2 separate regions of the Homo sapiens genome follow, and region 1 is linked to region 2. Evidence: fine-mapped expression QTL. A gene starts in region 2. The other region holds a variant in brackets. All regions are shown on one strand. Distances are from middle to middle. Region 1 holds the start of LOC105370577 (a long non-coding RNA gene). Region 2 holds the start of VASH1 (vasohibin 1).

Evidence for each region. PIP is the estimated chance that this variant, and not a neighbour inherited with it, causes the effect.
Region 1: its variant is fine-mapped to the expression of VASH1 in whole blood (INTERVAL, PIP above 0.99).

What each region holds. Positions count from the first base shown.
Region 1 is chr14:76,714,941-76,732,018 of GRCh38, reverse strand. It overlaps LOC105370577 (a long non-coding RNA gene), which reads left to right and starts at 5,308. Exons shown (of 2, transcript XR_007064273.1): 1 at 5,308-5,500. RefSeq lists an enhancer at 11,360-11,519. The variant C/G (reference allele first, on the strand shown) is at 8,673.
Region 2 is chr14:76,752,441-76,767,373 of GRCh38, reverse strand. It overlaps VASH1 (vasohibin 1), which reads right to left and starts at 5,906. Exons shown (of 7, transcript NM_014909.5): 1 at 4,244-5,906. The coding sequence starts at 4,552. RefSeq lists silencers at 5,380-5,649, 5,750-5,939.

The DNA of each region.
Region 1 (17,078 bases), 36 kb after region 2:
GTAGAGATAGGATCTATCTGTATTGCCCAGGCTGGTCTTGAACTCCTGGCCTCAAGTGATCCTCCTGCCTTGTGCTGGGATTACAGGCATAAGCCACTGTGCCCAGCTGTACAACATCATTCTTGATGGCTGCATAGTGCTCTAGTGAATAGATGTATTGTAAGATATTTAACCTATTTTGGGTGTTTCCAGGATTTTGCTAAGATGAATGAGACCAAGATGAACATTCTTCCAGCAAAATCATTGCATCCATGATTATTTCCTTGGAATAAATTTCTAGATGTACAGTTTTGAAATTTGACACTAAAGGAGTACAAACATGCCAACCCCCAAATATACTGTCCTGGCATATTGACTGTTTTGAGTTAAAGGCACTTAAAAAACAGGGGGTACTCTTAGAAGATCCCTCTGACCTTCCTTTTGTTTCTTAAAAGCAGGAGATGAAATTGTCATGTGAAAGATATCTTCCTTATACCAGAAAAAAAGAATCATTCTTGTCATCAAGAATAGGAAGTCGAGGCAGGGGAAATCTGTACTTGGTAGACTAATTCTTATCTTCCTAGTCACTCCTCTACCCAAGTAACTACCCTAGCCCAAGCCCCTTTGTCTTGTTACATTTTACTACTGTTTGCCCAATTTAGTATATAAATGTTCAACTATGTGTCTTTGAGTCTTCATTTCCTTATGAGTGCCCCTGGGTCATGTAAACTTGTATTGAATGAAGTTGTATGCTTTGCTCCTCTTGATTTTCTCTTATTATGTCATTTAATTTGCAAGCTCAGTTGATAAGCCCTAAGGAAGGTAGAGGTAAAATTTTACTCCTCTACATCACATTATGCTGCACTTAATTTAACAGTGTAAGAGCATCAGTGCAACGTGGGTCATTTGTGATGCTACCCATAAGATGTCCTGGGGCCTTCTCCTATATCAGCAGTACTGCAGTGGCCTCTCCTTGGTTTAGGAAGGACACCTTCCAGTGTGATCACTGGAAGCTTGGGGGACCACTGTGTACAACACATAGTATAAGCTCAGTCATTATTTGCCAAATGAACAAATAAATGAATATAGACTCAGTATGACTACTGGTCCACAAATGCAGATATTCAAGAATACAACATTTCTGTGTACTCCTCAAGTCAACGTGGATTAATCCCACCTGTGAAAGTGGTGGGAAGTTAAATTTCAGTAATTACTGAGTCTCTCTGACAGTGTTCCACCTGCCCCAGGTCATTCAATGTTCTTAAAGCCTTAAGCACTAAAGACTCATCTGGGATTTGCTGCCAGTCCCCTGCCCCACTGGTCACTCTGCGACCTCTGTGTCTCAGCTTGAACAGTCCCTTTCGGCTCCTGCTCCTGCTGCATCCATGCCACACTTGGGGCAAGGGACTCTTGGGAAAACTTGAGGCCCTTAGTGCCTGGAGTTCAGCACCCTTAGGTGTACCAATAGCCATCTGTCTCTTTAGATCTTTCCAGAAAGAGATGCATGGCTCCCCATTGCAGGCTAGGGGATTCTCTCTTTGAAACCAGACCAATTGTTCCATGGAACTGATGTTTATGGTTTCTTTGGAATAAACATAGGAATGGACCCTCCCAGTCTTAAAACATGAGGAATTTACATTTGTCTTATTCAAGTTCCTTTCTCAGGAAACCAACCATCAAGCCTCCCAGACAGTATCAAAGAACTGAAACTTACCAGATCACCACGTCTGGACAGTGAGATCTCTCACCAGTCATGATTGCCTCACAGACCACCTGCTGTCTGTTGACCAACTCTTTTTTACTCTCCCTAATTCCTGTTTTCCCACACATAGTTACATTCCTTCCTTGCTATATAAACTCCTAATTTTAGTTGATTGAAGAGACAGATTTGAGACTGACCTCCCATTCTCCTTGGCCACAGCACCCAAATCAAGCATTCTGCTCTGGTAATACTTGTAGTCTCAGTGATTGGCTTTCTGTGCAGCAAGGAATGGGACACCTGGCATTCTGTGCAGCAAGCAATGGGATGCCTGGCATTTCAGTAACATCTTCTGCCCCTGGAGCTGTACCCCACAGGCTTAAGGAAATTGGTCACGGGCTGAGCATGGTGGTAATCCCAACACTTTGGGAGGCCAAGGCGGATGGATCACTTGAGGTCAGGAGTTCGAGACCAGCCTGGCCAATGTGGTGAAACCCCATCTCTACTAAAAATACAAAAATTAGCCGGGTGTGGTGGTGCATCCTGTAATCCCAGCTACTCGGGAGGCTGAGGCAGGAGAATTGCTAGAACCCAGGAGGCGGAGGTTGCAGTGAGCCAAGATCGTGCCACTGCTCTCCAGTCTGGGTGACAGAGCAAGACTCCATCTCAAAAAAAAGAAAAGAAAAGAAAAGAAAAGAAAAGAAAAGAAATTGGTCACTGACCAGAAACCTTGAGCTTGACTTACAGGATGGTAGATAAGGAAACAGCTTGATACAATCCCCTCCAGTTGCAACAATAACTGGCTCACTGGCTGAAACTGGAACCAATATGGCTGACTAGAGTCTTCCCAGAATAGACTTACTTGCCCAGTGGGTGACTTTTGACATCACAGCCAAAATTTCCACTGCATATTTCATACCAACTCACCCTGAATTTGCGTGTGTGACTCATGAAGAAGCTTGAAGACACAACTATACACGTTCAAGGGCCTTTCCAAAATTCCTCTCCTTTGCTGCCAATCACTAACCACCCCAAAGCTCCTCCTCAGAATCTCTCCCTTAAATATACTGCTTCAAGGCTGGTCTTGCAATGTACCTTTCTCTACAGAAATATCTGCAAAAATGCTCCAGGGTGTGGCTTTCCATTGTGCATGAGCAAACAGACTCAGTTTGGTTCAGCAACACCCCTTGCTACTCTTGTTCCCCTCTTCATGTAGAACACATCTCTTTATTACATTTATCCCATTTCCCCTTACCCTACTGCCACCAGCAACGAAGGAGACATGGACTTGAAGCTCTTTAGCTTTCTGTGCTGCGAAATCTCAAAGGCAAGCAATTCTAAAGGGTCTGGCTACCCACTTAAAATCAGAGCAGGGACGAATCTATGGGAGAGCAAGACCAAACTATAATCTCAAATGATTGTGCTGCAAATGGATTCATAAAATGTTAAAGAGGGCGGTAATGCCTCAGAAAAGAGAATCCTCATTGTGGTGATTGAGCTGGCTTTAGGATGCCCACGGTAGTGATACATCTCACCGTGGAGAAGGGAGAGGTGGGGCTCTTTGGTCATTTAGGTCACTTCTGCACTGTGGTAACACGTTTACATGCCACAAATGCATGGTTAGGCAAAAAGGTGTTTTTTCTTGTTTAATTTTTCTTTTCTATTTCTCTCTCCTCTGGGATTGGTATTTTCCAACATTAAGCAGATTAATGTGCATGTGTTGCAGATTTCATGTGGCTTAGAGTTGTGTGGTATAGGGGAGGCAGAATTTTACCCCTACCTTTTTAAGGTTTTTCAGCTGGGCCTGAGAATTAAAGTGACATAAGACAGATCCACAGGATAAAAGAATACTAGTATATTTAGTACAAGTTTTCCATGGCATGGGGGCCTTCATAAAGAATTGAAGACCCAAAGACACAGCTAGAGTCGAACACTTACATACTGAATTAGACAGAATAGTAGAATTGTGAAAAAGTAACTAAATTCAGTGGGGAGGCTAAAAAAGGTAAGTTATTTTAACAAGGTCTGTACAGAATTCTCTCCACTAAAGCTTCCATTCTTGATAATAAGACTGTTACTTTCCTTGTAGTATAGGGAAAGTATACTTTCCCTATACTGTGGGAAAGAAAGCATCTTTCACATGGCAGTTTCATCTCCTGCTTTTAAGAAACAGAAGGAATGTCAGAATGATCTTCTTGCACCTGCTGTTTTTCAAATGCCTTTAACTCAAAATAGTCAATATGCCAGGGCAGCATATTTTGGGGAAGGCATGTTCTTATCTCCTTCAGTGGGAATGAGACAGTTGGAAACATTGTATGATTTGGAGAGGAAGCCCTGCATTTTCAGAGGCCTTTGTTTTGGGTGTGCCTTAACTGCACCTGCATTTCTTGCCGTTTCTTACAAAGAAACTTCCTTTTGAGAATCAAAATATTTCAGCTGAAGTTATTTTCAACCACAGGGAAATGTTTGAAATGTCAGCCTTTGTTAGCCCAAAGAATATTGTTTCATGAACAGTGATCGAAATAGTCATTTCCTTTGGGAAGCCTCTGCCATTGAAACAAACTTTGATTTTGGAAGCAAAATTTTGGCTTTAAAGATGTCATCCAAGTGTTACAACTTTTTCTAATAGCTCCCTGGCCATGTATTGTAGAGCTATGATAGGTTGTTTGGGTTTGAACAAGAAAACATGTTCTGGCTAGGTTGGGCAGTGTTAAGAGGAGGGACAGTATAGTGGTGGGGAGCAAATCCCTTACAGCCGGGCTGCCTGGATTTGCAATCCTCGTCATGCCACTGCAAGCTGACTCTTCGGCAAGTTATGTAACTGTTCTGGTCTCAGTTCCTGCATCTATAAAATAGGGGTGATGGTAGTATTTACTGCCTATGATTGTTATAATTATTAATTAGTGTATTAAAAAGCACTTAGAGGCTAGCACAGAGGCTAGGCGTTATAATTATTAATTAGTGTATTAAAAAGCACTTAGAGGCTAGCACAGAGGCTAGGCATGGTGGCTCATGCCTGTAATCCCAAAACTTTGGGAGGTGAAGGCAGGAGAATTGCTTGAGGTCAGGAATTTGAGACCAGCCTGGGCAACATGGTGAGACTAAGTCTCTACAAAAAATACAAAACTTAGCCAGATATGGTGCTGCACACCTGTAATCCCAGCTACTCAGGAGGCTAAGGTGGGAGGATCGTTTGAACCCGGGAGGATAAGGCTGCAGTGAGTCGTAATTGTGCCGCTGCACGCCAGCCTGGATAACAGAGTAAGACCGTGTCTCAAAACAAAACAACAACAACAACAAAACAACAAAAAAACAAAAAAAAGCACTTAGAGATGGCTAAATGCTAATCCAATAAGGGCTGTAGTTTAGTTAATAGTATTGCATTCATGTACATTTCCTGGTTAGATACAGGAGTGCTGGGAAGGGAAGGGTGTAGTTCTTTTAAATGATAGGGAAGGGAGAAGGGAAGTGCTGGGTAGAGGAGGGCGTGGTCTCTGGCTAGGGCTCCACCCCCACCGACCTAGGTGAGGACAGGAATTTACTGCCCAAATGTTGCATTTTCCAAGACCACCCTGGCCTGCCATGCCCCCATCCTGTGCCTATAAAAACCCGAGACCCTAGCAAGGCAGAAACAGCAGCAGCTGGAAGTCAAGAGGAGTGCTCTGTGGAGGAACACACCCACAGGCACCAGCATGCCGGCAGGCCACTGACTGGCAAAACAACGCGGTGTTTGGCTGGGGCAGTCGGAGGAGCGCTCGGGCCGCCAAGCAGACCGACTCCAGGGAAAACCATCTCCCTTCTGGCTCCCCCATCTGCTAAGAGGTACTTCCACTCAGTAAAACCTTCCGCTCATTCTCCAAGCCCACATATGATCCGATTCTTTGGTGCACCAAGGCAAGAACCTGGGGATATAGAAAGCCCTCTGTCCTTGCAATAAGGCAGGGGTCTAATTGAGCTGACTAAAACAAGCCACCTATAGCCGGCCAAACTAAAAGCAAAACTAAAAGAGCACACTGGGCTAGGTGCGGTGGCTCACGCCTGTAATCCCAGCACTTTGGGAGGCCTCATGAGGTCAGGAGTTTCAGACCAGCCTGGCCAAGATGGTGAAACCCCGTCTCTACTAAAAATACAAAAATTAGCCGGGCGCGGTGGCGGGCGCCTGTAATCCCAGCTACTCGGGAGGCTGAGGCAGAAAATTGCTTAAACCCGGGAGGCGGAGGTTGCAGTGAGCCAAGATCACACCGCTGCACTCCAGCCTGGGCAACAAAGCGAGACTCGGTCTCAAAACACACACATACACACACACACACACACACACACACACACAGTAACACGCCCACTAGGGCTTCAGCTGTAAACATTCACCCCTAGACACTGCCATGGGGTCGGAGGCCCATAGCGTGCCTGTCTGTATGCTCCCCTACAGGTTTGAGCAGCAGGGCACTGAAAAAGCAAGCCACATCCCCATCGCACGCCCTGCAAGGGGGACAAGGGAACTTTTCCCATTTCAGTTGTGATGATTGTACTATGAATATGCAGGATGTTACCATTGGAGGAAGCTGGATTAAGGGTACACGGGAACTATATAGTATATCTATGTGCACTTCTACATGAGTCTAAAATTATTTTAAAAATACAAAGTTAAAAAGTACTTAGGGAAACTATATTTGGTAGTATGATTCTTTGAGTAAGGTTTGTCTTTGACAGGAGACTGTGGACTGTAAACTCTCTGAAGTTAAGGACTATTACTGTTTTCCCCAGCACCTAGTACAGTGCATGGCACATAGTTGGTCTTCAATAACTATTTGCTGACTGAAAATGAATAAAGAAGATACTAAGGGTACCGGCCAGCAGAACTTTAAGCAACAAAAGAGAGACAAACCAGTTCCTGCATTAAGGTGGGAGGAAAGAGGTGAGAGGGCCATGCACCAATATTTGGTAAGACCTTCAAAACACATGCACACACACATGCATGCCCGCAAACACATGTACACACACAACATGCACCTGCCCCTGTGCAAATTAGGGAGTGGTTTGAGTGCCACGGATGGGTCAATGGTATGTGTGCCAACAGCAACAACAGCAGGATGGCAAGGTGATTCCTAAAGTGATGTGATTCTGCAGATGCAGCTCAGAGCCAGTGGTGAGCACAAGAATTTGGGATGAATCCATGTTATCTGGATTTTGGGTGGCTTGGTGAACCCAGCTGACAGTTTTAGTAAATAAACCTAGACGATCTTTTTCTGTACTCAAATGTTAAATGTAAGGACAATTGTTTAAACATCGTTCTAGTCTAAGGAAAGCTAGAATGCTACCTAGTTTGCTAGAATATACCCAGAAACAGGGGAAGAGGGTTGATATGGTTTGGCTGTGTCCCCCGCCAAATCTCATCTTAAATTGTAGTTCCCATAATCCCCACGTGTCATGAGAGGGACTTGGTGGGAGATAATTGAATCATGGGGGAACTTATCCTCATGCTGTTCTCGTGATAGTGAGTTCTTACAAGAGCTGATTTATAAGGGGCTTTCCCCCTTTTTGCTTGGCACTTCTTCCTGCCACCATTTGAAGAAAGATGTGTTTGCTTCCCCTTCCATTGTCATTGTAAGTTTCCTGAGGACTCCCCAGCCATCTGAACTGTGAGTCAATTAAACCTCTTTCCTATATAAATTACCCAGTCTGGGGTATGTCTTTATTAGTAGCGAGAGAACGGACTAACACAGGGTCAAATTCAAGAATTAAGCTATGCTGCTGGTAATATCAGGGTCACACCACATATGTGATAAGCCTATCAGAACATCACAGGGTTTAAACTGATACTACCATTTATGATTTGGAAAGGTTCTAGAAATTAAGAGATGCTTTGCTGCATTTGTAACTCTAAGAAATACAAAAGGTTTGGGTGTGAATTAGGTTTCTCTATTATATACAGGGTGTTAAATCAGACTTTGCAAACAATCCTAGGCAAAACTTACAAGGTCTGAAAGCATTTCCCAGAAGCTATTCACAATGCCTGACTTAAATACTCTGTATATAAAATTATAATGTAAAACTGTTGTTCCAATTTTTTTTCATAAAAGCCAAATACTTAAAACTCGATGTTTTATTTCAATATCTATCATATCATTGGGCAGGTTAGGATATGTAACAAATATTCTAAGCTCCTAAGAATGGATGGAACTATGTCACCTGTCTGTGTCTTAGCTGCCCAGGTAGAAACTTGGTTCTTTAAAGCTGTAGGGGAAGAAAATCTTTACCTCAACCATCTTAGGGTTACTGGTTGGGACTGATAATTAAGATGACATAGGCAGATGAACAGGAGAAAAGCACACAGGTTTTGACATGTACATGGGATCCCCCAAAGGAAAATGAAGATCTAAAGAACTGGCAAAACCTAAGTGCTTATATACTAGGTTGAACAAAGAGAGGCAATTGTGGAAGAGTAACTAAAATATACATGAGGACTAAAAGAACGTAAGAATTATTTTAACAAGGTCTGTATGTACAGATTTCTCTTGGTCTCAACTTCCTATCTCTGATGATAAGAATGTTTCTTTCCTCCTGGTATAGGGAGGGGACCTTTCACATGGGAGATTTATCTCCTGTTTTTAGGAAGAAAAGGGGAGGTCAGAGCACCCCTTTTGCAAGTGCCTTTAGTTCAAAATAATCAAGGCAAGTGGCATATTTTGGGGATGGCATATTCTGCCACCCTTCAAAGCCATGGACTGTGTGTATGACTGTGGATCTATTTTTCATGTTCTCCATCCCCTTCCTATATACCATGTTGTTTTGCAAATAGTTGATGCACAGTGAATTTTGGTAGATTTTTAAAAGCTCTTCACTGTACTCTATTAGCACAGATAGTCTTACTATTCAGTTGCATTTCTAAATGCTGTTAGTGCAACTATTACAAATGCAATATGTGTTCATTGCAACAAGTGGAAAAAGTACAGAAAAGTGTAAGGAAAATAAAAATCCATCATGATTCCACTGTATA[C/G]CAATAATCACTGCTGACAGTTTCACATATACCAGACTCAGATGTTTTTGTGCATGAGTGGATTTATATAGTACACAGTTGATAACCTGTTTTTTTTTCTGAGTATTGTCTATAGAATTCCCATCATTAAGTATATATCAACATCACCATCTTTACTGACTTCATAGTATTCCATTTATGTATGTGCTGTAATTTCAATCCCTATTGCTAAATATTTAGGGTATGTCCACATTTTCTCTACTATATGCTGCAATTCAGCAAATATCTCTGAACATACATTCTTGGGAAAAGTTCTCAAGAGTGAAATTGCTGTTACTTTCAGTTTAAAATTTGATTATACTCCAAGTTGTTTGATTTTTAAGGATGTTGAACACCTGTACATATGTCTAGTTTCCCTACTTTGAATATAAGCTTCTAGAATAGAAGGAAGAAATCAAATCTTGGAAGTCTCTGTATCCTCTACAAGTCCTAGCACAGCTCTGGGTGTTGGAAATGCTTTTGACTGCAAATCATGGAACACCTGTGCAAGAGTAGCTTAAATCAAAAAGCCACTTAATCATCGCCCATAATTAAGAAGCCTGGGTGTAGACAGTTCAGGGGTTCGTGCAGCAGCTCAGCGAGGTCCTTCCACCCTTTTGGCTTTAGCACACTTCCTGCCCTGCCTGAGCGCCAGCACATTGTCTTCACTCGGCACGCCCAACCCAATCTAGAAACAAGGAGGTGGGCAAAGGAGCTCTCCTCTTGCCCCTCTTTTTTTTTTTTTTTTTTTTTTTTTGAGACAGAGTCTTGCCCTGTCGCCCAGGCTGAAGTGCAGTGGTGTGATCTCAGCTCACTGCAACCTCTGCCTCCCAGGTTCAAGCGATTCTCCTGCCTCAACCTCCTGAGTAGCTGGGATTACAGGCACGCGCCACCACGCCTGGGTAATTTTTTGTATTTTTAGTACAGACGGGATTTTGCCATGTTGCCCAGGCTGGTCTTGAACTCCTGAGCTCAGGCAATCCGCCCACCTTGGCCTCCCAAAGTACTAGGATTACAGGCGTGAGCCACTGTGCCTGGACTTGCCCCTCTGTTTTTATCAGAGAGGAAAAGATTTTCTAAAAACAACCCAGGAGAATTTTTTTTGTATCTTATTGACTAGGCTACTTCTAGCGCAGAAGAGGCTGGGAAGGTATCTTTGGCCTTTCATCCCCTATGATGAAAGGCAAGCTCATGGGAAGGAGTCAGGGAAAGACTGTTGCGTTGGCCACCAACAAAAATGGGGCCCAGTGATAGGACTGAACATATTCCCAGAGTTGGCATGTAGATCATCTCCTGCCCCCACTCCTCTTCATCTCTCAGGGAAGAAAACGAGTTTTTATGGTGTCACCAGCCATGGGATCTCTGGGGACCCAGTGTCACCAATTCTGCCTCCCTCCTTAGCGTTTTGGTGGGGCTTTCCTGTTCTTGTGGGTGTCCTCCAGGGGAGACTGGTCCTACAGGGGGCCCAGGGCTGTGGGAGGTGCCGTCAGGGCATCTCAGCAACTGAGAGAGACTTGGGCCACACCCGTTTTTCAAGCTCCCTATAAATTAAAAATACAGGAGAAGAACCCTAACAGCATTATAAAGTTTGCAGTTTGGCCCGGCCCGGTGCCTCATACCTGTAATCGAGCACTTTGGGAGGCCAAGGTGGGCGGATCACCTGAGGTCAAGAGTTTGAGACTAGCCTGGCCAACATGGTGAGACCTCGTCTCTACTAAAAATACAAAAATTAGCTGGGTAGGGTGGCAGGCGCCTGTAATCCCAGCTACTCGGGAGGCTGAGGCGGAAGAATCGCTTGAACCCTGGAGTCAGAGGTTGCAGTGAGCTGAGATCTTGCCACTGCACTCCAGCCTGGGCAACAGAGCAAAAACTCCATCTCAAAAATAAATAAATTAATTAAATAAAGTTGGCAATATATTTTAAATGTTTGCCACTAACAGATTCATTCCTTAATACAAAGAAAACACTGCAATAAAATTGGACACCATGGCCTTTAAATTTATGAAAAATACTGACTCAGTGTAGTGTAGCTGGTGTGACCCAGGATGGGGACAAGTTCAAAATTGAAGGTTGAGCAATCTTTTTTTTGGCAACGGAATCTCACTCTATTGCTCAGGCCGGAGTGCAGTGATGCAATCTCCACTCACTGCAGCCTCTGTCTCCTGGGTTCAAGTGATTCTCCTTCCTCAGCCTCCCGAGTAGCTAGGACTACAGGCGCTTGCCACCCCGCCTGGCTAATTTTTGTATTTTTAGTAGAGACAGGGTTTCACCATGTTAGCCAGGTGGGTCTCGAACTCCTGACCTCAAATGATCCACCCACCTCGGCCTCCCAAAGTGTTAGGATTACAGGTGTGAGCCACTGTGCCTAGCAGGCAGTCTTCTTACAATGCAGGTGTTTTGTTTGGAGGTCTTTGCAAATCTAAATTTGAGGTGCTTCATGAATCGAATATATTTTGTATTTTTAGTAGAGACAGGGTTTTGCCATGTTGCCCAGGATGGTCACAGCAAACAGTGCTCCTGGGCCCCCTGTGATAGGCCCCAGGGCAAGAGTTAAGGCCCAAAAGGACTGAGGCCTCAGGTGCCGCAATTTCAGAATTAGTTACTCATTTCCTTCCTCTCCTCCGGTCTGATTTTCCCTTCCCCACCAGCCTCCTGCGCTCCTCTCACTTCCCTTTCTCCCCTCCTAAATTCTCCATCCTCTTTTCTGACCTCTTCCTGCCCTCCCCTTCCTCCCTTCCTTCCCTCCTTTGAAAGTCTGGTCCTCTAGAGCTGTGGAAAAGACTGGAATCTGAGCCCTGGCCTGCAGCCAGCAGGGAGCCAGGAGGAGCAGCTGCAAGGTCAGACCAGGGTCACATCAGCTGCTGAGAGAGAGAGGAAGTGAGGCTGCCTGGGCTTCCTGGCCCTCAGGGACAGGCTTACTCCACATGGCCCCTCTCTGCACCCCTGTTCCTGCTGAAAGGTGCCAGGATATGCCACCCCAAAACATACCACTTTGGCATAAGGATTATTTTGAGCTAAAGGCACTTGAAAAACAGCAGATGCAAGAAGGGCATTCTAATCTAGTTTCTTCCTGAAAACAGGAGATACGGACTTTCATTTGAAAGATGCCCTCCCTGTACCAGGAGAAAAGAAACATTCTTTGAGTTACTCAGAAGACACTCTTTGTTTGCTGGGAAGATTGTGGCTTATTTTAAAAGCAAAAGCAGCATCCCTCACCCAGCATCACTTTGCTCAGGGCTGCCTTTTGTTAAGGAGCTCCTTAAAACCAAACTCAGGAGGCATTTTCTTTTTTCTCCTATGACCAGAGTGTGTTGGCAAACAGGCTGCTCCATGCCTAGTGTGGCCACTCCCAGCGCACTGGTCGGGAATGGGAGGGAGGAGACTCTGTCCCCTTGACCCAGTTTTGGGGCGAAATCCAAGAGCCTCCTTGGCTCTGTGCGTCTGCCTCTTTGAGTGTCTGCAGCACCAGCTCTCCACTGGTTGTTTTAGAGTTTCAGGGTCTTAATGATGTCGAGACCGTAATGGTGCCAGGGCATTGGTGCTGGTTATTGGTTCCACAGGTCACTCCTGGGCTGGCCCTCAGTCTTGTCCACATGGCTCTGGGGAGGTATGGGGGTCACTCTGCCGCTTCATGTCACAGAGCCCTCCATGCCCCGTCGAGTCCTGTCCACGCAGGCCTTCTCTCTTGGGTTGCTCCTCCTGAGACCCATCCCTTCTCTGTTCTCATCCTCTCCCCTCCAACACCAGCCCAGGAAAAACCTTTCCTACATTTTGGGTCCTTACCTGTAATCTCCTCTGTTCTTCCCAAATGTTTAGACTTTAGGGATTGGAAGCTGGGAGTTCTTAGACTGCTATCGACTTTCTTTCCTTCCACCACTTTCTTCAGTAAAGGAGCACAGAGCCCAGGATCTGCTTTAAAGGGGCGGAAGGAAAAACGGGGCAAGAATCTCGAAAACGTGGCCCCACTTCTGAGTGCTCGTCACCTGGCACAATACCTGGTACACAGCAAACAATTGTTAAACCAAAAAAAAAAAAAAAAAAGCTGGGCACAGTGGCTCATGCCTGTAATCCCAGCACTTTGGGAGGCCGAGACGGGTGGATCACCTGAGGTCAGGAGTTCGAGACCAGCTTGACCAACATAGAGAAACCCTGTCTCTACTAAAAATACAAAATTAGCTGGGTGTGGTGGCACATGCTTATAATCTCAGCTACTCAGGAGGCTGAGGCAAGAGAATCACTTGAACCCAGGAGGTGGAGGTTGCAGTGAGCGGAGATCATGCCATTGCACTCCAGCCTGGGCAACAAGAGTGAAACTCCATCTCAAAAAAAAAAAAAAAAAAAAAAAAAAAGAAAAGAAAAGAGAAACATGGCAGCAAGAGAATGAATAAATGCAGGCCACCTGGCTCAGAGCCGCAGGACTTGAATTCAGATCCCAGCCCCCTGGCTGACCTCCCTGTGTAAGTTCTACTGACCTAATCCATAAAGGAGGGGAGGGATGAGTTCATCGCTGGGATTCCTTCCAGCCCCCAAACTCAATATTTTGTATCCACATAGGAAAAAGAAAGAATATTTATGCAGTCGTCCCACTGAACTGGAGCAGGGAAGAAACCTGCCTGGATGATTCAGGCTCACATACACAATCATCTCCAAATATGCTTCCCTTCTGTCAAATGCCATCTCCTAAATATCACCAGAGCAACCTGCGGAGAAGGCAAGGCTGAGTTGATTGTTCACCGTGGTAAGGTAGAGTACCCCCTCCACAAAGCCTCAGTAGCTTCCCAAAGTGGGAGGGCAAAGTGATTTTTATTGAGACTTTGAGGCCTGGTTTAAGGTGGCTCTTTCAGTGCAGAGGTGGCATGCTTGATGGGGGTTGCTAAGATCATGATTGGTAGACACAGCAAAGTGAGGATTTCTGGCTGAGGCGTTCAAAGAACCTTGGGGTATAAACTGTCTTCCTATTGAACCTATAAACTGATGCTTCCTGTTGAAGACATGGTGTGTCCTTCAGGAAGTTCCTGGGATGAACAGTAGAGTTATTTACAGCTTTTATCTTCCTGGGCAAGCATTTTCTGGAATAATAGTGAAGTTACTTTGATGAGGACAGTGGAATAGTAAAGTCATGTTAATATAGACAGTGAGCTATGAGTGGTTTGATTCTCATCCCAAGCTGTCTTGGTTCGCTGTTTGAATGACTGTGATGTCCCCTCCACCAAGAAGGCTGACGCCTATGAACATGTGTACTCCCTTTCCCTCTTGGTCCAGCTGGATTTGGCCCATGAAGGCAGGGAGCAGAGTGAGGCTGGAATATTCATTTCTGTTCTCTTTCTGCTGGTATTACCCAGCAAGCAATGGGCTCACTGCCTGATGCACACACAAGCCAATACCATGGCACTGAAAACCTTTATTGGGAATTGACTGGCAAGACAGGAGGCAAGGCTGAAATCTATGTCGCCTAGCTGGTGGGCTGGGGCAGGTTTTATAGGCGAAGGGTAATGAACCATGATCTGATTGGATCTTGCAATGAGGTGATGCTGGGGAGGCATGATCTGACTGGATCCTGCCACGGGGTGACACTAGAGCTCAATCTGATTGGATCCTGGATCCTGCCATGTGCAGTCCACCTCTGAAAGCAGTCCTTGCTCCCGGCTTCCAGCACTTAGGTTCCACTTGTGGTTGCACACTTGGTTCATCTGGGCATGTTCAGGTTACTTGACTTTCAACTTGGGGATCCATGGCAACCAAAAAACAACTCACGACTTTGTTACATAAAAGTTGAACCAGGGCTGGGCACGGTGGCTCACGCCTGTAATCCCAGCTCTTTGGGAGGCCGAGGTGAGCAGATCACGAAGTCAGGAGATCGAGACCATCCTGGCTAACACGGTGAAACCCCGTCTCTATTAAAAGTAAAAAAAATTAGCCAGGTGTGGTGGCAGGTGCCTGTAGTCCCAGCTACTCAGGAGGCTGAGGCAGGAGAATGGTGTGAACCTGGGAGGCGGTGCTTGCAGTGAGCCAAGATTGCGCCACTGCACTCTAGCCTGGGCAACAGAGCGAGACTCTGTCTCAAAAAAAAAAAGAGTTGAACCAGATTGGTCTGGTGTGATTACACTGGGTTGCCCTGGGTTGGTTGCCTCCGCCTGTTTCAGCCCTCAGCTCCTATCACCAGCCTTCTCAATAGCTTCTCTCTTGAGTTGGGGTAACTGCTCCCCGACTTGCCCTTTTATGCCTAAGGGAGCCTAGCTCCTAGTATCCCATGTGGCTCTTTCTCTCATTTCTTATTCCCAATGAGCATGTGTTGCTTTCCTAAAGGCATTTCCATAACATTATACTTTTAAAGTCAACTGTGTGTGAGTATAAATGCTATTGGACATCAGGGGAGAACTCGGAAAAAAAAAATGTTCATTTTTATTGATAAACTTTTTAACTAAGGCAATTTTCAAAGAAAGCTAAAATCATGACATTCCTACAAACATAAAATGGACATGTTAAAATTGTATTTAGTGCATCATTAATGAAGGCTGGTAAGATGTGACAACCGGTTCAAATGAGAAGTCAAAAGAGGCACAAATTTATATGGAGAAAAGCAATGTTGAAGTGTATTTACGAATAGAAGGAAATATATTTACGAATAGAAGGAAACATATTTCAAATAGAAGGAAACTGGCTTTCCTTTGGAAAATAGGAAGTAAATTGAACCACCTCGGGACAGAATGTATTTGCATGCCTGCAAACAGGAATTATTTACATTGCTATCAGTTATCTACAATTTACAGATTTGAAAAATAGCTCAAAGGCAATGAATGGCCCAGAGACCCTAAAGCATCGCACTCAGATAACCTGGAAGGGTATGCTCTAAAGGATACACAGTTTCCCAATGAAGCACACATTTTTTCCTACGTGACATTTATTAAGCAGTTAATACTTGCAGGCAGTGATCCAATCCATGGGGACTGATAGTCTGCTTGGAGATTTAAGACACAAAAGAGCTGAGCCGTCTCCCTCCAGCAGTCTGATTAGTGGAGTGTTTATTATACTTCCTCTCAGTGACATAAAGATACTCCAAATTGAGTTCCATCATCAAGCTTTCCTCTTGAGAAAAACAAAAGTTTCCACTGCTTTCAAAAGTTTGAAAGCCACCAACCCATGTCCAGCAGGTTCATTTTATAGAAGAGAAAATGAAGGCTCAGAGAGGAAATGTGGTCTGCCCTGGGGCGCGCAGCTTGTTAACTCATGTCTGGTCGGAAGATGGGCTTTCAGGGCCGAGAAGGTGCTCCTTTTTGGCATTATTAGGTGACAGAAAGAGCTCCTGGAAGGGAGGATTTAGGAAGCAGGCTGTGACAGATGGTTTTCATCTCCTGTGCTCTGGGAAATCGCTACCACCCTCTAATTGGATGTTGGGAGCTTCAAGCAAACTGGCAATCTACATTGTATCATTGTTCCGTATCCCTAATTATCCCTTGGGATTTGGCTTAAGTGCAGCTTAGAGGATGTTCATTAATAGTGTCGACAGGGACACTCAGCATTTGTAAAATTCTTTACAATAATTGAAGACCTAGCATTGTTCTGGTGTGGTAAGGAAGCATGTTTGCTCCCAGCCGAAAGATGACTTAAGCTAAGAGGGTGGAGACTGGCTGACTTGGGAGTTGTTTTTCTAACGTCCAGGTCTGAACTCACAGTTCTACAATCCTTGTTTTCACCGGCTCAAGGAAGCTCCTTGATGAATTACATGAGTTCAGCTTACTAATGGGCTTACTTCACCAGAGTCAGAGTGATCTGTCCTTGGCATTTCATAACCCACTTCAGTTTCCTATCTCTTGGCCACCGTATTGTCAAAAACCTCATATTCCTGTGGCCATGACCAGTTCCAAAAGAAGCTTTGTCTCCACAGACAGATCGTGGTTCCATCTGGGCCTACCACCAAAAGCCTTGTGATTCCAGATGGAAAAATCCCCACACCCCCCCCCGTTTCCAAAGCAGCCCCCCATCTCGATTGTTTTATCTACAGTCAGCAGCACGAATCCTCCACAATCAGAGTCTCTCCGGGGGTGGAAAGAGTGGCTAATGGGGGATACAGCTCATCTTCAAACCCTGTGCCATGTGAATGGAAAAAAAAAATGCACACATCTGGCTGGGTTAGATAAAGAGGAGGGCTGGGGCAAAGAAGCCGGGAGTGGTGGTGGGGGCTTCCCTCTATCAAAGAAAACATTAAGAAAAAGGCTGCTTTTATTGCAGAGGAAAATTAAAACTTTACATTGTGACTGGAGCTGTTCAACCATCTACATTTGGCTGGGCACGATGGCTCACGCCTGTAATCCCAGCACTTTGGGAGGTCGAGGCGGACGGATCACCTGAGGTCAGGAGTTTGAGACCAACCTGGCCAACATGGTGCAA
Region 2 (14,933 bases):
AAAGTGTGGCCTAGAGGGCAATAGGGCTGAGTCTCCAACTAGATCATCACTATGGATATTCAGCTCTGCCATTTACAGTCGTGACTTTTTATTTATTTATTTATTTATTTATTTATTTATTTATTTATTGAGACAGAGTTTCACCCTGTCGCCCAGGCTGGAGTGCAGTGGCTCAACTTCGGCTCACTGAAAACCTCATCTCCTGGGTTCAAGTGATTCTCCTGCCTCAGCCTCCAGAGTAGCTAGGATCACAGGCATGCACCACCACATCCAGCTAATTTTTGTATTTTTAGTAGAGATGGGGTTTCACCACATTGGCCAGACTGGTCTCGAACTCCTGACCTCAAGTGATCCACCTGCTTCGACCTCCCAAAGTGCTGGGATTACACCGCACCCGGCCTAGTCGTGACTTTAGTGAAGCTCCTGACCTCCCCTGTGCCTCAGACACTTCATTTATAAAGTGGGCACCAACACAAAATCAGCCTTATAGTGCGAATGAGATGCTGCAGGTCGAGGCCTTAGAGCAGGGTCAGGCACACAGCACAGACTTAATTTGTGTTCACTGTCATCATTATCAGTGTGCCTCGCACATGCTAATCCCAGCAACGTTACCCTTTTAGAGGAGATGTCCAGGCTGGGTGTAGTAGCTCCTGCCTGTAATCCCAGCACTTTGGGAGGCTGAGGCGGGAGGATGGCTTGAGCCCAGGAGTTTGAGACCAGCCTGGGCAATATAGAGAGACCCCATCTCAACCAAAAAATAAAAAAATTAGCCAGGCATGGTAGGGCACACCGGTAGCCCCAGCTACTCTGGAGGCTGAGGTGGGAGGATCACTTGAGCCCAGAAGGTAGAGGCTGCTGTGAGCCATGACTGTGCCACTGCATTCCATCTTAGGTGACCAAGCGAGACGCTGTCTCATAAATAAATCAAAGGAAAGCACTCTGGAGTCATAATAAGTAGCTAGAGGAGATGTCCAAATTCCCATTCTGCAGGAGCTCTGTGGCCTGAGCCATAAGAGACCATAAAAGACCTTCAGCAGCTGGGTCTGGGGTCAGTGGCCACTAAGCTTTTAAAGGGGGTGGAAGCCTGAAACATCAAGGACAGACTCTTATCAAGGAGCCTAAGCTGTTGCTGGATTTGGGATCTTTCTAGAAATTGTTGCCCTATAACATACTGGCATCATCCCTGTAAAGGCTGCTTCTCCAAAGCGCTAGTGGGGTGTCGATGAACACTCACTCCCTGCTCCATTACTGGGTATCTATTAGAGGCACTTAATGAAGCATCACATGCTTTGCATCATTAATTCCTCTAACATCCTCTTGATGGGCATTGCTATTAGCTCCATTTCACAGCTGCGGAAAACTGAGGCACAAGAAAGTTGCCTGTCTTCCTCATATAAGTAGTTATGGGAGATCAAGGATTTGAACATGGTAGCTTTGACTCCAGAGTGCTCTCCTTTTATGACACCAGCCTGCAGGGGTCCCAGACTCAACCACATGCAGGGGCCGGGCAAGTAACATACACGGGGCAGGCAGGCCTGGTAGGTGAGTGGTGGAGACAGTGGCAAGATGGGGGAGTAGGACTCACTCCCCAGCCCCAGCTGACAGCTGCCACGTGGGACTGCAGATTCCCATGTGTTCCCAAGTCTTCTTATTTTCTGAAAAGATGCCAAAACTCTGGATCTTTATGTGAGAAATCTCCCAATTTTCCCAACAAAACACTTCTTGAGCCCCACACTGTGTGGCCGCTGTAGGGAATGACCCTGTGCCAGCTCCAGTGGCATGGCCCCTAGGGATGGTAAGGGCGGGGTCAGCCCACCCTGCCACTGGCACCCTGGCACCCAGGCACCCAACCCACGCTGCTTCTCTCCAAGGCCTCCTGGACTCCACTGCACTCCCAGACTCTAAGGGTACCTTTCTACTCAGAGCCCAGGTAGAGGAGGGACCTCATGCAGACTCATGCGATTTATCTGAGATCTGTGGTTTGAAGAGGGGGAGGTTCAAATTTTTCCAAACCTCTCACAAAATTCCTTCTACCCTAGCGATGGAAGTCTAGGGGTCTGTCACAACACAGCCCCCACCCCTAGACTTCCTTCATCCGTGTCTTTCCTGTACATGAGGACTGAAGATGACAGAATGACATTACAGACCAGTTACTAGTGAGCTCACTATTTCTTTTTTAGTTCCCAGGAGTGGTGGCAGTTCTGCAGGGAACCATTCACACTCTTTTATGGCCTGATTTAGACATAAGCAAGATGGCTGGAGAGCTGCCCGACTTGTTCACGTGGGAGCAGGGTGTGACTCTGGCCTCATCGGGACAAATGATCTGAGCAAAACCCAGTCTTGCCGCTTGATAAAGCACATAAGTAAAGGTGATGGATGTCTGGCCGGGCGTGGTGGTTCACGCCTGTAATCCCAGCACTTTGGGAGGCTGAGGTGGGTGGATTACCTGAGGTCTGGAGTTTGAGACCAGCCTGGCCAAAATGTTGAAAATGAAACCCCATCTCTACCAAAAATACAAAAATTAGCCAGGTGTGGTGGTAGGTGCCTACAATCCCAGATACTCAGGAGGCTGAGGCAGGAGAATCACTTGAACCAGGGAGGTGGAGGCTGCAGTGAGCCAAGATCATGCCACTGCACTCCAGCCTGGTGGAAAGAGTGAGACTCCATCTCAAAAAAAAAAAAAAAAGGTAACTGATATCCAATAACCAGGTACTGGTTTGGGGCTTTACAGTTTGTTAAATACTTTAACACACAGTCTCTCATTTCTTCCCCACAATCAACCTCATCTTATTGATAAGAAAACTGCATCTCAAATAGGTGGAAGAGGCCATATAGATAAGCAGGTGACCCCTACCAATGTCAATATCCTTTGACGCAATACTTTCGCTTTCAGAATTTTTCCCAAGGAAATAATCAGAGATGAACCCCAAAATTTATATTTTAGAATGTTCACCATAGTATTCATTTTAGGAATAAAACTGGAAACAACATCCAACTCTAGGGGATTAGCTAAATAAATATTAAGTCAGTGCAGAGCACATTTATGCGGCCATTCCAAATCAATCTACATTTTGTTTCCCCTGGAAACATTAGGCAGTATTTAAACCTTCAACCTTTGATTCTCTTTTTCCCAGAAGACACTTTCTGATGGCTGTACCAATAACTTGGTAAAAACAAAACGGGCCACTTGTCCTCATGTCTAATTCACACTAACTTCCATTCTTCCTAGCCCCCTTCCTTCCAACCTGGGCAGGCAGGGCTAAGCACTGGGCTCTGAACTCAGTCCAAAGGGCTCTTTTTTGGAGATTTCAGGCCTCTGCATTTGGCAAAGTGCCTCCTAGTCTTGATCATGTTTTTTTTTTTTTTAATATCTGGCATGTATTTCCATATAGCAGCGTACAGCACAGAAACTCTCAAATACCCTTTCATTCAGCAAACACACACACTAGTGCCTGTTCTGTGCCAGGCACACAGGAGGCCTTGGGAAGACAAAGATGAATGAGATACAGCCTCTGTTTTCGTTGGTGACACAACTGAAGTATAGCTGTCATGGAGGAGGAGTTACAGCCAACACAGAAAAATTATTTCATTTTATGCTTCTCCATAAGACCTCTTCTAATGTGCTTGAATCTACTGTCCAACAGAGAAGAGGACCTGGACACTTCCCTCCACCACCACCCCCCGCCCTTCTCCTGAAGACCTGAAATTGAATCTCAGTTCTGCCACTTACTGGCTGTGGGATCTTGAGTTCCTACTTGAGTTTTCAGCTTTCTCATCTGTAAAATGGGAATCCAAACTGTACTTACGTCACAAGGCTGTTGGGAGAATTCAATGACATAATGCACGAAAATATTTTCTCAACATATGAAGCCCTGCATCTCCTTAGTCATTCATTACATTTGTCTGCTCACAGTTCTCTGGCTTGGCAAGTGTCATCAAGCAAATGAGACGTCAAGCCATCCTACTGTGTTTGTTAGTTCCATCTGCTGCTGTCCCCTCCTGTAAAACGTGGACATTTTAAAAGACAGCGGGGAGGGCCTCCTGGAGACAATGTATGTGAGCCTCCCTCCTAGAATGGCAGTGAGAGAAAGTTCTCCTAGACAGGTATGATATCACTGCATTTTAAAGATCTTACCGAGCCAGTGGTCCCCTGCCCCGTGGGAGGAGAGTGTGGCTTCACTCTTGGCCCCAAGGTCACTAAAACCTAGACTGTGCTATCACCCCCCTGACCCGTGTGTCTCACCTTGGGCAGGTCTGTGGCCCCACGGATCCGTTGCGCCACCTTCTCTCCATCGGGGTGGATCTTGGCCACGTGTTTCCACATCCTTTCCCAGGTGGCCTCATCCACAGGTAGCCCACCCCGGTTGACAAAGAAGGGGACGCCTCCGTCTCGCAGGTCCTCTTCCCCTTCCTCTTCTGGCTCCTCATCTCTCTGGGCTGAGGTTCCTTCGCTGGTCTCCAAACGCCTGACCCCAGAGGGGGCGGTGGCCGCAGCGGACGTTGGAGTGGCACCGCTGCTGCCACCCCCAGCCACCTTCTTCCCCCCTGGCATCCCTAAATCTTCGAGGGGGGTGGTGGAGGCGGGAAAACAACTGGCTCACAAGAGGCCTCCCACACACCGGCTGCAGAGATAACACATGGCCAGAGTGCAAGGCGCCTTTAAGAAATCAGGGCGTGGCTCCTGTACAATAAAATACGACTTGATAAAAAAAATCAGTGCAATAAGGTGAATTAGGGTCCGAGGGGGTGGGTTGTCTGGGGTCAGCCTTGGAGGCCTTGTTCTGTTTGAAAAACGGAATAAAGAGAACACACCCCAACTTGGCAGCCGTCACAAAGCACCCCCATCTAACTGCGAGAACAATGACGGGCAGCAGTGAGGGCTGGCAGAGCGGAGAAAAGTCGGAGGGAAACTGAGGCCAGACAGCTCGGACCAGCGGCTGCAGAAAGGACAGAGTCAAGGCACGGGTGCCCACTGGGCGCCCTGGGTCTCAGTTTCGGAGGGAACAAAATCCCCTACACAACTCTCGCACGCTCACATCTGCGCGCGCCCCAAGGAAGACCGAGGCGACTCCCGGCCGCGCGAGCTCGGAACCAAGACCCCCGGGCGGGAGAGCGGCGCTGGGGGGCGATTTCTCCGACGCGACGAGACAAGTCCGGGAGCCAAGACTCGCAGCTGGCCGGGAGCGGGGAGGGGGCGCGCGCCGACGCGCACATTCCCCGCCTGCGGCCAACTCCCTGCACAAAGTGGGCTTTGTCTGGGTCCCCTGTCCCCTCGTCCCCAGAAACAGCGGCGGAGTCCCCAGAAAGGGAGCGGGCGCGGCGGGGAGGCGAAGGCTGCGAGCCCCGAGGCCCAGCGGGTCCCCACTCGGGCGCGTCTCAGCGGGAGGACGGCTGGCACCTGGCGCCGCGCTGCACCAGCCGAGCCATCGCAGGGCACGGGGCCCGCGGCTCAGCGGGACCGGCTCGGGCGGCGCGCAGGGGCCAGGCTGAGGTCACTGAGCGGCGGGCTGCGGCCGCGGGGTCGCTGCCTGGGACTGGCTGCAGCATGGGCGGTGGCGCGGCCCGGGCGGGCGGAGGATGCTCCGTGGCTGTTCGCTCGGGCTGCAGCTGCCCTGGCTGAGGGTGGAGGAAGGACCGCGGGGCGGGGACCGCAAGCCCGGAGGCTCGCGCAGCCTCGGCCGGCGGATGTAGCTGGAGGCGAGTGACGAAGCCGGGCGAGCGCGCGCTGCGCTGGTGCCTGGGGAGCAGCCCGCCAACGCGGAGCCCGCCAACGAGAAGCCCACCAGCCGATCGCTGCTCGGCGAAGCTGGGGCCGCCGCTGCTGCAGCCCCGCCGCCCCTGGGCCCCGCTGCCGCCGACCACGTCCCCTGCCAGCCAGCCGCCCACCAGGCTCGACTACGGCCCGCGCCGCGCATGCGCTCCGTCCCCCCCTTAAAGGGCCAGCGCCTTCGCGCCCAGTCCTCCGCCCCCCGCGGCGGTGCCTCTGTCCCAAGTTACCCCAAGGACGCCGGTGGGCATTCGCTCCCTCCTCACCCAGCTGTCAGGGCGCCGCGAAGCCGGTGCGAAGCTGCGGAGGACGTTTTCAACGTGCCAGAGGGAGCGCAAACTCCATGGAGATTCCTAGCGCAGAAGGAATTCCTGCGGTCGGGAATTTCTTGAAAAAGATTCTTCGCAGGGGCCCTGAGCCGGTAGGACCGAGAGCACTGGCCTGGAAGACTGGGATTCTAGACCGGATTCAGTGCCTGTGTTGCTTTGGGACGTTCAGCAGTTCCCTTCCCTCTGTAGGCCTCAGTTTCCCCATATCCCAGCCGAGGTGGTCACAGTGAGTGAGCGCAGAGTCCCTCCCAGCGCGCACAGTTCTTAGAGGAGGACATCTAGGGATTGAGACGGGGGGTCACTATCTCTGGAAACGAAAAGGGTTAAAAGTCACCCTGTTTTATTCGATTGCCTGCACTGGTGGGAATGGGGTGCGCAGAGCTCACCCCTAGACCATCTGCCTAGACCGGGCTTTGGACGCTCTGGACCCCGCGGACCAGGGTGGGACCGCGACGTGGGCGTGGGAGGCAATGCTTGGGGAGGGTCCGCTGGCCTAGAGGAAGGTGAAAGTACAACCAGCTGTGGTGCGTGGTTGGACACTGGACGCACCCTCCGCCTCCCTCATGCCATAGAGTTGTAAATGGTGGGAAAGGCACTATCTCTAGGCTGAAGCCAAGAACTTTAGGAAGAGACGGCCGAGTGTGTGCTTTAAGATGCTCCCCCTCTCCCCTGCCTGTAGTTAGCATGAATCACAGTCTTGTGGGAGAATGCAGATTCCTTGGCCTTAGCCGGCAGATTCAGATTCCTTAGTTGTGGGGTCGTTGCATTTCTTGACAAGCTGAGGTTACTACACAAGGGCTGGGTTAAAGGCCTTAGAGAGACCCCAGGGCCTCAGTGGTTTCACATCTGTTCTCTAAAGCTGTCCCTAGTATCTGAACTTTCTGGGTACCCTGTGCTCCCGTAGCAACCTCTTACTACCTCCAGGGTCAGAAACCAAGGGTTATCAGTGATGGGAAGGATTGCAAGACTCCAAGAAAGTTAGTTCAGCCTGGATCTTCTTAAACTCACTAAGGCAAGAAGACTCCAAGCGTAGAAAAATCACTAGGGATCAACAACTATCACCCTGTATTGTATAAACCAAGTCTCAGAGGGTAATTTCCCCAAACTCACACAGCTAGTAAGTGGCAGAGCTAGAATGTGAACAGAAGTCTTACTTCTTCAGACACTTGTTTTTCACTCTATACATTGCTTCTTGTGTTAGCCAAGTGGTGCTGGTTTTAAAATTGGCTTGCAAGCTCTTGACCATTCTTTTCAAAAGATGGGATCTAATTCCTTTCCCCCTGAATGTGGGATGTACTTGGTGACTGGTGTCTAATGAATAAAGTGTGATGAAAGTGAAGCTGTATGACTCTTAAGACCAGGCCATAAAAAGGAGACAGCTTCTTCTTGGTTCCTCAGAAGAAACCAGCTACCATGTTGTGAAGAAGCCCAAGCCACATGGTGAGGCCACATGAGGGTGTTCTCGCTGACAGCTGCTGCTGGGCTCTCAGCCAACAGCCAGAGTCAATCACCAGATCATGGCAAACCGAGACTTCAGGTCTTGCCAGCCCTCGGCCTTTAAGTCTTAGAGTTGAGGTCCCAGACATGGAGCAGAGAACAACCAGCCCTGCTGTGCCCTGTCTGACTTTCTGTCCCACAGAAATTGAGAGAGGATAAGTGACTATTCTCGTTTTAAGCTGCTAAGTTTTGGACTAACTTGTTACGCAGCATGAGATAATACCATGTGTTTTCTGAAATGACAAATAAAATAGATGTAGGGTATTCATTCAAAGAGTAAGTACTCATAGAACATCTTCTATGTGTTTGACTCTGTACTGGGCACTGGAGAAGCAGTAGTGAACAAGAGGGACATGGCCTTTGCTCTAGTTGGACTTATGGCCTACTAGTGGAGGAGATAGTTAAGCATGATTTCCATAAGGTGCTCTGCCAGAGGGTTATTCAGGAAGCTGTGGGAGTGCATACCCAGAGCAACTTCCCAATCAGGTGAGGAGCTGGGAAAAGAAGAAATGAGTTGGGTACAAGGTCAGCATGGACTAGGCTAGAGAATTTTCTGGCATGTGTGCATAGAAGTGGAAGAGGGTATGTGTCAGGCAAGGGGGCTTGCAAATAGATTAGAAAATGGTGAAACTGGAAAGAGATGTGTATAACCCAGTCTTATCTAAGCCAAAAGCCCAGAGAGAACAAGTGACTTAACCTGGTATGGCACAACTTTTGAATTGGTCTCAGATCCTGGGTCCTTCATCAAGCCCTCCCATGACTCCCCACACCTATGCCTTGGGAACAACTCCTCCAACAGACACTTGGGTAACTCCTTATTTGGCTCAAAGCTTTCGTGACCGTTATTTTTCTTTTTTTTCTTTTTTTTTTTTTTCCCCTGAGACAGAGTCTCGGTCTGTCACCCAGGCTGGAGTGCAGTGGCTCGATCTCTGCTCACTGCAGCCTCTGCCTCCCAGGTTCAAGTGATTCTCTGCCTCAGTTTCCTGAGTAGCTGGAATTATAGGTGCCTGCCACCATGTCTGTCTAATTTTTGTATTTTTAGTAGAGATGGGGTTTCACCATGTTGGCCAGGCTGGTCTCCAACTCCTGACCTCAAGTGATCTGTCTGCTTCGGCCTCCCAAATTGCTGGGCTTACAGGCGTGAGCCACCGCGCCCGGCCCTCATGACAATTATTCCTTTTGCTGTCTTCACAAAAACCGTGGAAGAGTTAGGATGAGTATGATTTCCATTTTACAGATGAAGAAAGGATGCATAAGAGAAGCTAGGCAAATTACATACCTAGTACAGGAGCAGGCACATCTGAGCTGCTGGGTACAAGTCACTTTCATGATGACAAGGATGACGATAATGACGCCTAACTCATATCATGTGTCACATTTGTTATCGTCACACTCTGGACTAATGGTCTGCAAATGAACGCATGTTGTCTTAGGGCATCAACACTCATATTAATCTGCTCTGACACATTTTCTATTCTTGTGACACAGAAGCTAGAGTGAAATTTCCAGAGAGAAGAGTCTGTTGACTTAGCTTGGATCCTTGGCTAGAGGAGGATGGGGCAATTTCATTAGCCAAGACTACAGGTGGTTGGGGGAGAAGGACTGCCCTAAAGGTAAATGGGGTGCTGTTAGTAAAAGAGGGGCATGGAGGCACACAGGTATAGATGTGTTTATAAAAGGTAGATGTTCTGACTCAACTTTTTGCTGTTTTCATGTTCATAATTTATGAGGTAAAAGAAGAAAAGAAAAGGAGTTTAATCCCAAGAAAGAATCACAGAGCAGAACTGTCCAATAGAAATTTCTGCAATGGGCCAGGCGCAGTGGCTCATGCCTGTAATCCCAGCACTTTGGGAGGCTGAGGGGGGTGAATCACGAGGTCAGGAGTTCAAGACCAGCCTGGCCAATATGGCAAAATCCTGTCTGTACTAAAAACTACAAAAAAATAGCTGGGCGCAGTGGCAAGCACCTGTAATCCCAGCTACTGGGGAGGCTGAGGCAGGAGAATTGCTTGAACTCAAGTGGCAGGGGTTGCAGTGAGCCGAGATTGCATCACTGCACCACAGCCTAGGTGATAGGGTGAGACTCCATCTCAAAAAAAAAAAGAAAAGAAATTTCTGCAATGGTAGCCAGAAGTTCAGTATGGTAGCCAGAAGTCATATGTGTCTATTTAAATTTGAATTTAATTAACATTAAATAGAATTAAAAGTTCAGTTTCTCCAATCACGCTAGCCATATTTCAAGTACTCAGTAGCCATTATGGCTCATAGATACTGTAATGAATAGTACAGATTATAGAACATGTCCATCACTGCAGAAATTTCTTTTCTTTTTCTTTTCTTTTTTTTTTTTTTTGAGATGGAGTCTCACCCTGTCGCCTAGGCTGTGGTGCAGTGATGCAATCTCGGCTCACTGCAACCCCTGCCGCTTGAGTTCAAGCAATTCTCCTGCCTCAGCCTCCCCAGTAGCTGGGATTACAGGCGCTTGCCACTGTGCCCAGCTAATTTTTTGTAATTTTTAGTACAGACAGGATTTTACCATATTGGCCAGGCTGGTCTTGAACTCCTGACCTCGTGATTCACCCCCCTCAACCTCCCAAAGTGCTGGGATTACAGGCGTGAGCCACTGCGCCTGGCCCATTGCAGAAATTTCTATTGGACAGCTCTGCTCTGTGATTCTTTCTTGGGATTAAACTCCTTTTCTTTTCTTCTTTTACCTCATAAATTATGAACATGAAAACAGCAAAAAGTTGAGTCAGAATCTTCATTCATTTACTCAATAAACATATACTAAATATCTACTCTGAATCATACATGGTTGTAGGCACCAGGGATACCTGGCGAGGATCTTGGAGCACTTCTGGTCCAGTGGAGCTTACATTAGGATCACCCCAGGGGCTCTTAAAATTCTTGATCCTCAGTCTGCACCCTGCAGAAATCCTGATGAAACTGGTTTGGAGTGGGGCTTGGTACCCATAGTCTAGAAAAGATCTCCAGGTAATGCGAATGGTAGCTGGGCTTGGAACCACTGAGATCTAGACTGGCCAGTGAAACGATTTGCTTCAGGTCACCTGAAAACCTGAATCTGCCTGGGTCTGACTTCCGCTCTGGGGTTTGCGTGACAAAATCAGAGAGTTTTTCATGGATTTGGCATCTGTCTGAATTGACTGCTAAATTCTTAGAGAACAAGTCTGTTTTTCCTTAATCCAAACAGAATCCAGTTCACTTCAGGTAAAGTGCCAAAAGGACCTCTGGCTTGGGATTCATTTTAAATCACTGCTTTCTCAAACTGTCCGTTTTGTTTCTGGAACTGAATTACTCAGCCAAGTGAGTGAAAGTCTATAAAAATAGCTCCTCTTCACTGAGCCCCGAGTGTAGGTCCGGTGCTTTACCTGCAGAGTTTCATTTAATTCCCAGGTCAATCTCGCAGGGTAGGTATTGCTGACATCAGTTTACAAGTGGGCAAACTGAGATTCAGAGCCATTGAGGATTGTAATTTGTTCAGGGTGGCACAGCTGATATGATAATTTCAGAGTTCATGTTTTTTCCCCTACACCGCTCTGCAGCTACCCCACAGCCGAGAGCGTGGGGCAGCTGGCAGATGGCAGCATTCTACTCTGGCTTCACATAGGAAAGAAAGCTTTGTGCTGGTGAAGCTCCAGACATGATCCGGACAATTGTTACCTGAGCTCAGTGACAGTACTAGGGGCCTGGAGGAAAGGGAGACTTGGGGATAAGACAGATGAGCAGATTTGGAGTTGAGTTCTTTTTGTTGATGGTTATGCCTGGATTCCTTTTATTGAGGGATTTGGAAGAAGCAGCTAAGAGCAATGTGGCGCCTGAAGCAGTTAGTTCTAAGACACCTAGCAATGATGATGCATGCTTGGTATAAGCATTATCTATTCTTGGCCTGGATTCCCGTGGGCTGGCAGAGTGGCTGTGTTGCCATGTATCTTTGCAATCTGATCTCTGCCTGATACTTCCCGGGCAGCCTGGTGTGGCCTCCAGGGGCTCGGAAGGGCCAGGACTCATTGTGTCCATTCCAAAGAACTCTAACAGAGAGATCTCACCCCTGCCATTCTCTGGGGGCCACCTTATACAGTAGTAGGAGATCCAGGCCTTGACAAGCAGCAAGGGCTGGTCTTAGAATGGATCAGGGCTTGTCTGCATCTCATTCAGCAGGTCCATGTGGGAGCAAAGCCACGACTGCTGGTAGAAAGAGTGCAGAGTAGGCCGGGCGTGGTGGCTCACGCTTGTAATCTCAGCACTTTGGGAGGCCGAGGCGGGTGGATCACGAGGTCAGGAGATCGAGACCATCCTGGCTAACACAGTGAAACCCCATCTCTACTAAAAATACAAAAAATTAGCCGGGTGTGGTGGTGGGCGCCTGTAGTCCCAGCTACTCAGGAGGCTGAGGCAGGAGAATGGCGTGAACCTGGGAGGCGGAGCTTGCAGTGAGCCGAGATGGCACCACTGCACTCCAGCCTGGGTGACTGAGCGAGACTCTGTCTCAAAAAAAAAAAAAAAAAAAAAAAAAAAAAAAGAGTGCAGTAGAGCACAGCTCGAAAGACCCTTCAAGATTTTCTTGTCTAACTCTCATTTCATAGATAAAATACTGAGGCTCAGAGAAGTGACAGGATTTAGGATTACACAGCCAGCTGGTGGTGGGATTACACTTGAACTCAGGGCTCTCCTGATTCCTGGCCCAGTCTGCCTTCCCTGATGTGTCCACTAGCAGGGAAGAAGCTGGTAGTAGGTGAGCCCTTGAAAGCACTGCAGTGGCAAAAGGGAGAGAGAAGGTCTTCCCACATTAAGGGAGAGAGAAGGTCTTCCACATTAAGGGAGAGAGAAGGTCTTCCCACGTTTGTTTCAGGGTGTGGCCAAGCTGTGTGTGTCAATGGGTGGCTGTGGATGGGGTGTGTATTTAGAAAAGCTGTCTTCAACTTGAAGGACTGGGTGATGGCCACTCTCTTTTCCAGGCAAATCACACTCATCCAGACTTGTATCCCTCCCATTGTTAGAAAACATGGTATTTCCCCCAGCGTTTTTCTCCATGCACTGTGGCAGGTGTTTGGATAGTCGGGGAGCGATCGGCGATTGAGTCAGGCAGGAATGGCCAGGCTGTGGTAGTTTCTCTCAAACTGTGGTCAAGGCTCTGGGTGTCCCCGAAAGAATCAAAGTCTGATCTCAGCCTCCCTGTTCAATGGATAGGACCCAGACTTGGAGACAGGGAGAAACAGAGGGAGTTCTGAGATGCTGGTACATCCTGAAGACTAGATCAAAACCATTTACAAGATGCAAGTCTGTAGGTCCATGAGGTGGGCTGGGTTTATTTCTTGAGGCTTGGTTCTCAAGGGAGACTTCACTTTAATTCGACAACAGTTTCTGAGTGCTTATACTATATGCATGGTGTAGCATAATTTGCTGCAGGAGATGCAGATACGTAAGACATTGCTATGGCCCCCTGAGGTTGCGTCGAAGATGACACATCCCAATAACTTTTTGAACCCTTACCATGGGCCAGGGGCTCTACATTTATGTAATCCTTACCATAATCCTGCAAATGGGGATTCTACTTTCCATTTTTTAGATGAGGAAATGGCCTGAGAGAAGCTAAACAACTGTTCCTCTGTCATGGCCAGTGAGTGGCTGAGCACGTTCAGAAGCTGTGCCCTTTCTGCGGTACCAGGAGGCCACCAGCTAACCACAAGATGTGGCAGACTCAGGCCAATGCTCCAAACCAGGCTTCAACAAGGTGTTTGAGGAGCACAGAGTGAGTGATTTGTTCTAATCTAGGCAACCGTGTTTGGCTTTAAGCACTGTTGATATTTAAAGCTGCACACTTCTTTGTTGTGGGGCCTGTCCTGTGCACTGTAGGACGGCTAGTGGCATTCAGGCCCTGTACTCACTAGATGCCAGTGGCAACCTTTCCCATTGTGACACTCACTCCCACTTGGGAACCACTGGTTTTAGGTAAGAAAGGGTCTTCAACCTAGGCTTATAAAGATTTTGTAGACAAGGATTTCGCAAACAAAAAAGGGAAGAAAACACTCATTCGTCTCATGTTTTTCCATTTGACAAAGGGTGTCCACTTAGATTTTCCAATTTGGTCTTTGCATTTGTCCTGTGGTTGAGTGCATCAACTTACAAAGCAAATTACAGCGACATACAGTTGCTAGCAGGCTGCAGTGCAGGCTGGGGGCTTCTCATCCATTGCAAGTTTCCTCAGTACCCAGCTCCTCTGTGGCCTTTGTGTTCAGCCTGTGTTTAATGCCTATTTTCTGTCCTTCATCTACTCTCCTTCCAGGGGGCTTTTTAGGGTATCTATTTTATCATCAACAGCTGCCACCAACTACAGACACTCATTTGGGGGTTAACTCTGTGTTAAGGGCTTTGCATAGCACCCCTAGAGGAAAGGTGTCCTTATCATCCCCATTCTGGAGGAAATGAAGGTTAGGAGAGGGAAGAAACGTGCCCAATTCACAACCCTGCTAAGTAGGGGAGGAGGCAGGACTTGAACCCAGACCTTGCTGAGCCTCCTCTCTTCACCACTGTGCTCTGTTGCCTCCCAAGAATGCCCTTTCCCCATCGTGCTGCCCACAGGGCTCTATGTACCCCTGTGATATGCTCACAGGAGAACATAGGCAGCAGCCAGCTCCAGCTGGCTTGGTGGGGGTGGGGTGAAGGGGGGCGAGAGTGCCCTTCCTACCCATCAGTTGTGCTGGGAAAGGGAAGACATGTTTCTGGTGGATCCTCTCCCCGTTGAGGGGTGATTATCCAGCCTGCTTGGCATTCAGCAATGAGAGAAGGCTTCCCATGAGCAGGGCAGAGCGCCCAGCCAGACTGCAAGACAAATGGGTGGCATATGCACTCCAGCCCAGTGCACAATCAGCTTGTGATTCTGCATCTGCCAGCAGGGAAATAATGCTCTATTACTGCAGGAGGAGCGAAGAAACATAACATCCGAGGCTGGGTCCTGAGATTGTTTTTACCTCTGTCCTCATCCCTTCTCTCTGGGGTCGTGGCCAGATGCTCCCTGCTTTGGGAACATTAGTTATGAAGCTTGTAGGGGGTTTAGCTCCACAGGGTCAGACCTGCAGGTGCAAACAGGCCCTAGGCGAACCCCCTGGAGGAAACGTTGACATTCCTGTTCTGTCCAGCTCACAGAACACTCTTGTTCACTCCCTTATTGCTGTGGGGAAAGACAGGGAAAAAGTGATGGGACCACTGAGGTAGTCCCTGGAGATGAGAGAGAAGGGTGGCCTGTTTACATCCATCACAGGCAGGCTGGGTTAGGGACAACAAAGATGGTCAGGTTCCAAATTTTCTTGAGTCGGGACTAAA